2 linked regions of the Homo sapiens genome follow. The protein of the gene in region 2 interacts with the protein of the main gene of each other region in a pairwise test. Each region holds a gene or a part of one and is shown on either strand. Other genes may lie near its edges. The genes, in order: GPR37 and FABP7.

What was found.
Region 1: the proteins of FABP7 (region 2) and GPR37 interact in binary tests that used the Homo sapiens proteins (3 or more experiments, as listed by UniProt).

The regions. Positions count from the first base shown.
Region 1 is NC_000007.14:124,755,781-124,759,601, forward strand, and holds part of GPR37 (prosaposin receptor GPR37 precursor), read right to left. Parts: intron 1-3,821.
Region 2 is NC_000006.12:122,778,326-122,782,774, reverse strand, and holds the start of FABP7 (fatty acid-binding protein, brain), read right to left. Parts: upstream 3,060-4,449; 5' UTR 2,981-3,059; coding exon 2,908-2,980; intron 2,485-2,907; coding exon 2,312-2,484; coding exon of another isoform or gene 2,264-2,311; exon of another isoform or gene 1,683-2,263; coding exon 1,581-1,682; coding exon of another isoform or gene 1,428-1,580; exon of another isoform or gene 1-1,427. UniProt on the Homo sapiens protein: B-FABP could be involved in the transport of a so far unknown hydrophobic ligand with potential morphogenic activity during CNS development.

The sequences.
Region 1 (3,821 bases), on a different chromosome or scaffold from region 2:
TCTCAATCTTTGGTATTATTATGATGTTCCTAGTCAATCTTAAAGTGACCTGGAATTTCAGTTCCTTACCTTGGGGTTCTGATGAGTTTCCAAAAAGCAGTAACACATTTTTACCTATTTCCCTTTCTGACTAATGATATTGATTTGCATGACTGTGAACTCAAACTAAAAACAAAATTATGTATAGTTAGGTCATCATGATTTTAATAAAATTGAGAAACCATATTTTAGGACAGAATTTATCTGCTTTTAACCAAAATTTCACTATTGGTAGTCTGTTAAGGAAATTTCTTTCTTGATTCAATCTTCTTATAAAAGGCAGTTATTTCTAAATTGCATATCTTGATGCGAATTGGCTTATCAGATGCTTTTCCGATATAAAAAGGATTTGAATTAGGAAGACAATAGTAAAGATAGGCCCTGAAGATGGGAATTGATGAGGAAGGGGCTATTTTGACAGAAAAAAAGAAAAAAGTAACATCCCTGAATAGAGTCACAGACCTAATAAGAATGTCTCATTCTAGGCAGGGATCAAATCAATGACCTTGGCCTCATTAATGAATGCTATGAACTATTCAAGTGTACAGACAGATAACACTGAAAACTATTACAAATTCACAAATGGAAAGTATTCTGTCTCAAGAACAAGACTGACACAGTGATCATATCCTGCGTTTTATGGAAGTTTATGAAAAGTACCTACACTTACTCTGCAAATAAAAAAAGACCCTCCATATTTGACGTTGCAGTAATCCCATTCTCAACTCCACTCTGAAATTTTGGATGAGATCATCTCTTCTGGCACAAAGAGTATTATTCCAATTAGGATATTTAAGAGTTAGTCTTGGCAACAAGGTTGAGTTCATTATTGGACCTTGGCAGGTCAATTCATGGGAAGTGAAATGACAGGCGCATCCCTGGAGGATGGAGCAGAAGTGCAGAGGCAGAGACAAACTGCACTGCATAGCTGCCTTCCCATCCCTCTCCCACAATCTACATCCCAGACACAGGTCCATGTGCTTCCAATGGGATACTGTTAAAAGGTTGCCGCACATAAGACGAATGCCATTAAAGGTGTAAAAATTGTATCAAGGTCCATGCAGCCTAAATATGAAAGCAAAGGTAGACCCTCACCCACTCAGCCTTCGGTAAACTTATAAGCTCATATCTGTTTTACTTCTGCAGACACATTTGCCTCCTTGTCTCTGTGGAAGGATACTTTGCTGACATGGCAGGATACCTTGGGAGCCCTCAGGAGCTCAGAATAAATCTTCACTCTGATTATGTGCTTGAGAGATTAATCCAATTCTTGAGAAAGTCCATTCATCGTGCTCCCCTTTCCTCGACTCCACAATGGAGTCTAAAGTATCGCCCTTGTCCATCTTCTTTCTTAGGTTCTCCAAGGTCAAGTTAAACAATTTGTATATGTTTTGATTTTTTCAGAAGAAAAGGACTCAATTTAATATACTGTTATTACATTGCCAAATAAGCCATTCATTTAAATAAAATGTTTAATTTTGACGTATTTAGTGTCCTTATAGCTAATAAGGACTAATTGTAAAGCAGAGATAGATATCCTAGGCACTGGCACAAATTCCATATTTTAAAAGAAATTTCTAGAACTGAACTATTTGCTGAATTATTTTGCCAATTATTATTATGGACTTTCTATCCTGGGAAAGCTAAAGGAAACAAAAAAGCAAGAATTAAAAGATTTTCACATTTGTAACTTTTCATCATGGATCTAGGCTGTATAGGCATTTATGAAATTTATGAAGATTAATAGTAAGAATGTAACTGAAAAGAATTAGAGGGAGCACAGTTTTCCCTTTAATTTCTCCATCTCTGGTCATAACAAGCACAACTGTGACTTGACCCATTTCAGTGCCATTTCTGAGCTTCCACGATGCTTTGTTCAAACCTCTATTATAATATTCATCATGGTGTAGAACATTACTTTACTTTTCTGTAATTTTAATGGCAGTGGCTCATCTATGATATTCATCTTTGGAAACTTTTCCCCCTCTTCCTGTATTGCCTTCTCCTGCCCACTCCTAATAGTACCTCGCATAGAAGAAAAGCCAGGTAAACATTTGATAAATCAATGAATGGTGAACAAATGAACGAATGATGACACCTATGGAAAAGGATTACAGAAAATAATAAATTATTCAAATTGTTCTTTAATCAGTTATTGGGTGCTGCTGTTTTATATATAATCCTTAAAAGCTGAATGCCAGACAATATCTATAGAAGGGAAGTTAAAAAATCAATTTTCCTATTTATACTTCATTGACAAGCTTTAGAAAAGGACACATTCTCATTATGATCAATGGAAAAGGAAACTATTTGGATTTCTTATTTGAATATTATAAAACTTTTCTTTCTTGTGGAAGATCCAAATTCAGTTAACTTCACCATACACCATTCAGAAATGGAGTTATAAATAAAAGTGCACTCTAAGAAACACTTTTCTTCCTGTTAGAGTCATCAGCTAAATATTTTCATTTGCATGGGAATATATAAAATGATTACTAAAAGATTAATGGGAAGTCATAAAATATTTGTTCAGCACCATTCTCATATATTGAGCACATTTTCCCTAAGAATACTATTAGTAACTTTAAAATTGCTCATAAAACAGTAAGTTTCCACTTAAAAGTCCGGCAGAATACCTAATGACTAATCCACCTCTCAAAGAAAATTTACCATATGCCATGATAAATGTTCTATTACTTGAATACAGGCGTTCTAGGGAAATCTGTGTAGACTCAGATAGTTGTATGGCACTGTCATCTTCAACCTCCAAAAACCCTTTCTTTCTTGTCAGTGCTAGCTACAATCTAAGGCAATGAAAGAGCCATTTGTTCCACTCAACTTAAAACCAGTATTGCTAAAGTCATTGGAGAAGCTGGTTCCTCTCATTAGAAAAGATTCTAGACTTGTCACAAATTATTCCCAGACCAGAGGCCATGGTAAGACATGTTCCCTTTATTCTCTCTCCACCTCTGTGCAGGAGTTTTATCCCAGTAAAATAAAAATACAGTTAGATCTGGGGTTATCTCATTATAATTATTTGAAGCCTTCTGTTCTACAACACTCCATGAAGGTGTGGGTTCTTTAAACTAAAGAGAATCTCGATCATTCAAAACCTCCAATTAATGTCCAAACAGACCTTAATCTGTTATCTGGGATCTCGGTCAGATGATACCTTGATTCTGACTTCCATTAAATAATGAGCAAAGATTCATTCCAGTTGCCATATTTGATGTCTGAATTATTTGAATTTTTTTTTTTTTTTTTTGAGACAGGGTCCCACTCTGTCACCTAGGCTGGAATGCAGTGGCATGATCATGGATCACTGCAGCTTCAACCTCCAAGGCTCCAGAAATCCTCCTACCCCAGCCTCCTGAATGGTTGGGACTACAGGCATGCACCACCACATCCCGTTAATTTTTGTATTTTTTGTAAAGATGGAGTTTCGCCCTGTTGGCCAGGCTGATCTTGAACTCCTGGGCTTAAGCAATCTGCCTGCATAGGCCTCCCAAAGTGCTGAGATTACAGGGGTGTGCCACCACACCTGGCCCAAATTATTTGGTTTTAAACACTTGTTAGATTCCTAAGTGAATGGTAGGTATGGTAGAGAACTCCTCTGCCATTCTCCTATTGCAATCCACACCCACACATATCTCCACCTCCCCTAATACACATAAAAGCACACTACATATACAAGTTTTGTTTTGAGTATAGTTTTTTTCTTGTGGCTAAGTAATAAACCACTTTAAACTGATGTGTCTAGGAGGACGGCCATGATCTATCCA
Region 2 (4,449 bases):
CTCAATGCAGAACAGTGCTGATTGCAGTAGTCAAGGGGAGAAGGAAACATGAGTCCCCATTCTTAAACAACAAAACTTTCTCTGCTGTCATCGTACAAGGACTATGTAAAGCATTCTCACACCCTCCTCCAAAATTGAATGAGCCTACCCACCTATGTCAGTATCATCAATATACCATTGCAGGTCACACAAAAAGTGTCTGAGGAAGGCTTGGTGAAGGCATAATATTTCTCCTAGTTTGTGATACTACTCCATCATTAGATAAATTATTTGTTAATTATTTTATATTTGATCAATTTAGGACAAAAACAGAGGAAAAAGTCTTGTAAAGATGGAGTCAGAAATGGATCAGAGTAATAACAACTGTAAGCCCAACAACCTCAATGATTGCCAGGAGCCATCCGGGAAGTAGGAAGAAGCAAGGGAGGGGGCCCGCAGAAGGATGGCAACACTAGGGTCGCCTTGATCTCAGGCGTCCAGCTTTCAGAACTGAGAAAATTCATTTCTGTTGTTTTAAGCCACCAAGTTTGTGGTACTTTGTTGTGGCAGCCTTAGGACACTAATAAATCCTCTTTTACAGATAATTCCTAGTAAGTAAGAAGAGGCTGATTGAAAAAAATATTTTTCATGTCTACCTAGTATTGAATATATATGTTTAAAAGGCATATTATGCATTCGAGAAAAAAACTGGAAAGAAGTAACATCAAAATGGTTCTCTTTGGGGGCTGGGAGCCTTGGCTCAGGCCTGTAATCCCAGCACTCTGGGAGGCCGAGGCAGCAGGCGGGAGCATCACTTTGAGCTCAAGAGCTGTAGGCCAGCCTGGGCAACATGGCGAAATCCCATCTCTACAAAAATACAAAAAAATTAGCCCGGCGTTGGTGGCTTGCACCTGTGGTCCCAGCTACTTAGGAGGCTGAGGTTGTAGAATCGCTTGAGCCCATGAAGCAGAGGTTGCAGTGAGCCAAGAATGCACCCCCTGCACTCCAGTCTGGGTGACACAGCAAGACTTTATCTCAAAAAAAAAAAAAAAAAAGGGTTATCACTGATGAGAAATCAGAGGGGATTTTAATTTTTTTGTTATACTTTTCTGTTATATTCTAAATTATCTGCCCAGAACTTGTGTAACTTTATAAATTAAAATATAAACTGTTTAAAGATCTCTTATTACAGGAGCTATAAAGTCATCTGTCTGAGATTCTCTTATAATAGCAATTATCTTTATATATTTCAGTGATTATGGGCTTTATATTAAATTTTATTTGAGAGACATCCATAGTTATCCTACAAAAAATCTTTTGACACAGTTTTAGGCAAATCAATGGCAACTTTTATTTTTTTAACTACACATGAATTTTTCTCTTTTTCTACAATCAAAGAAGTTGAGCTGAAGAAGAAAATTAACTGGGATCTTTTTGTTTCCCCTGTTTTACATATAGTTAAAGAACCTTGCCAGTGATGTATTATTAAAGAAGGAAGGAAGGAGGAAGAATGGAAGGAGGAGGGAAGAAGAAGGAAGGAGGTGAGAGGTGTGCGGAGAGGAGAAAAAAACAAGGAAGAATGGAGAATTGTCATTACTTACCATAACCATTTTGCCATCCTTAATTTCTCTTACAAAATTTGTTTCTTTGCCATCCCATTTCTGTATGTGAACAAGTTTGTCTCCATCCAGGCTAACAACAGACTGAGACCAACAACAAAATGCAGAACATAGCAATAAATACAATTCAGATTTCTGATACGGAAGACGATGTGATTTTTGAAAGAGTTGTATAATTGAATAAATCATGATCAGTTAATTATCCTATTGTTATTTCTATTACTTCTAGATTTTCTATTATGTAAATTTGAATTCATAATTTGATTAAAAAGTATACATCTAAATACAAAAATTTAATATATTAAAAACAAAAATCCTAAACCAGTGCTTTGCAGCTAGTCGTCCCTCTAAAGAAAGCCTTAGAATGAGGCAAACTGTCTATTTAGTCAATCTGAGGCAACCTGGGGAATTAAACAAAATGCAATCTCTCTTTCAAACAAACCTTATTAAATATTTTCTGAAATACAAGTTTGATATAAAATGTGAACAGTATATGGTAAGAGACAAATACAACTGAGATTTATGCTATAGCAAGTACCCATTGTTCAAAATATAACATATGCACATTAAACTAACTTTGGTGTATTTCTCCTTGGATTGAAATACTGAAAATATTCTACACTTTCCAACATCTTAAAAAAAACATGCATTGGAAATCTTTATCTTTATTCCCCTCTCCCCATCCCCACTCTGAAGAAGAAGCAGTTTCTCACCTTACAGTTTCTATCATCTGCAGTGGTTTCATCAAACTCTTCTCCCAGCTGGAAACTAATCTCCGTGTTCTTGAATGTGCTGAGAGTCCTGATGACCACTTTGTCTCCTTCTTGACTGATAATTACCGTTGGTTTGGTCACATTTCCCACCTGCCTAGTGGCAAAGCCCACGCCTAAAATAGCAAAGGGAACAGTACAGTCTGCAGCGACTTCCAAAATAACTCACAAAGCAAGAATCTGCTTTCTGATTCTGGAATCCACGTTCTAAAGTGTAAGTTTCATTAGAACATGATTAGCCCATTAATCATGTAAAACACTACTGTGATAATAAGTGGATGCAGAAGAAAACCAAAAAAGTCAGAGAAGCTTCATATTCTCCACGGAATAGCAAATGTTCTGTTTTTATTGGCCCTGGGTAAGAAGGCAAGCAAGTGCCACATTAAAAATCCATTCAGTGGAAAATGCATAGCCTAGCATCTGATCAGGGCAATGTGATCTGTCTTTGCCTCTTGCTGACCTGATGAGTGAAAAATGGAATCTGCAAATATCTAAAGCTGCACGTTGAGAAGAGAACAGCCGGTCTTATTGTTACCTACCTAGAGCCTTCATGTACTCATCAAAGTTCTGACTGTTGGTCAGCTTCCAGGTAGCACAGAAAGCCTCCACCATCCTTGCCCTTTCCCCTCTTTAGAGACAGGAGCGGGGATCTTCTGGTCTAATTGCCACTGCAGCTCAGAAGACCCTTTACACCTCAGCAAGCAGCTCCTGCCTTCTTATTTGGAAAGAGGGTGGGCAAAAATCCAGTGATTTAAATTGCAAACACACCCCTCCAGTGTCCCTCTTTCCAAGAGGCTGTCACAGAGAGAGGAGAAGGGAAGGAGCGCTCGAGTGAGGCTCCAATCCTCTTTGTGATTGGCTCAGGCCACTGGGTTAGCGGAGTAGGTCGAGTTCCTCCCAATCCTCACACTACAGCCCTTATGCCTGAGAAAGCTCGGCAGGGATTCAATGGGGCTGGAGGCAGGGAACGGGAAAATGAGAGAAGGGCTTTCAGGTTCGGTGAGAAAAAACTTGGCAAAGGCAATCTCAGACTGCAAGGAAAGAAAAAAGATGCACAATGGGGCATTCAGATTGATTTCCGTTAATGACAAAGCTGGTCACAAATGAGGACCCCCCTTAAAGAAAACCACTGAAATGCCAGACTTTGCAGACAAAGGAGAGTGAATAGTGTGTGTTATTTTCTCTCATAGTTACAGGGAGAGCGAAATGCAGGCTAGAGTAGGCCAAACTGAAAAAGAGGGCGGGGAGGAGGTGTAAATGCCTTCCCTGGATATACTGCTTGAAGGCTACTCTGACTGTCAATGAGGAAGCACACTAATTTGGGTCCTTTCCCAACACAAACCGAGAGAATTTAAAGATCCCGTTGTCCTTTCTAAAAATGTGAGAACGAGACTGAGTTGGAAAAGGGACCTAAGGAAGAGTATGGTTAGGACTTACTAATGAGGTACAAAAATAAATAAAAGAATGCTTTTCCCCCCGATCTCCTTGAATAGATTATAGAACCCATGTGGAAAAACTGGACAGAAGATTATTTAGTAAGACTTTAAATTACCTGCATTCTAGGACCTTTTGATTTCCTGAGGCCACATCTACACAAATACAATCTGTGTACATTTGTTGGGAGTTAGTGATGGGGAAGGGCAGGAACTGGAGGAGCGGTAGGAATCAGAAGGGCTTTGGTTTCAGTTTGCCCTGGCTCAGGGTTCCCCAAGAATGGCAAATACCTTGAGGGTTCTAAGTAGAGTATTTAAAGGAAGTCTCTGAAATTCCCCTTCACCCAAAGAGATTCCTTCCTGACTTACTAGTGCTGACCAGCAATGAAAGCAGCTTACCTGCCTCTCCTGGGGACAGAGCAGGAGAATCCGACTTGATATTCCCTGCCCTTCTCTCTCCCCTCCCAATTAAACTGCAGCCCAGCACATTTCTACCCAATCCACACCAGATCCAACAGAGAAGGCTCAGAAGGCCTCCTACGCTAGGTGGCGGCTACATGATTCTTCTTCGGTGTCTCAAGTGCGCTTGTTTAACAAAAACTGTAGTCTTCCTTCACAACTGCTTTTCTTCCAATTTTCACTTTATTT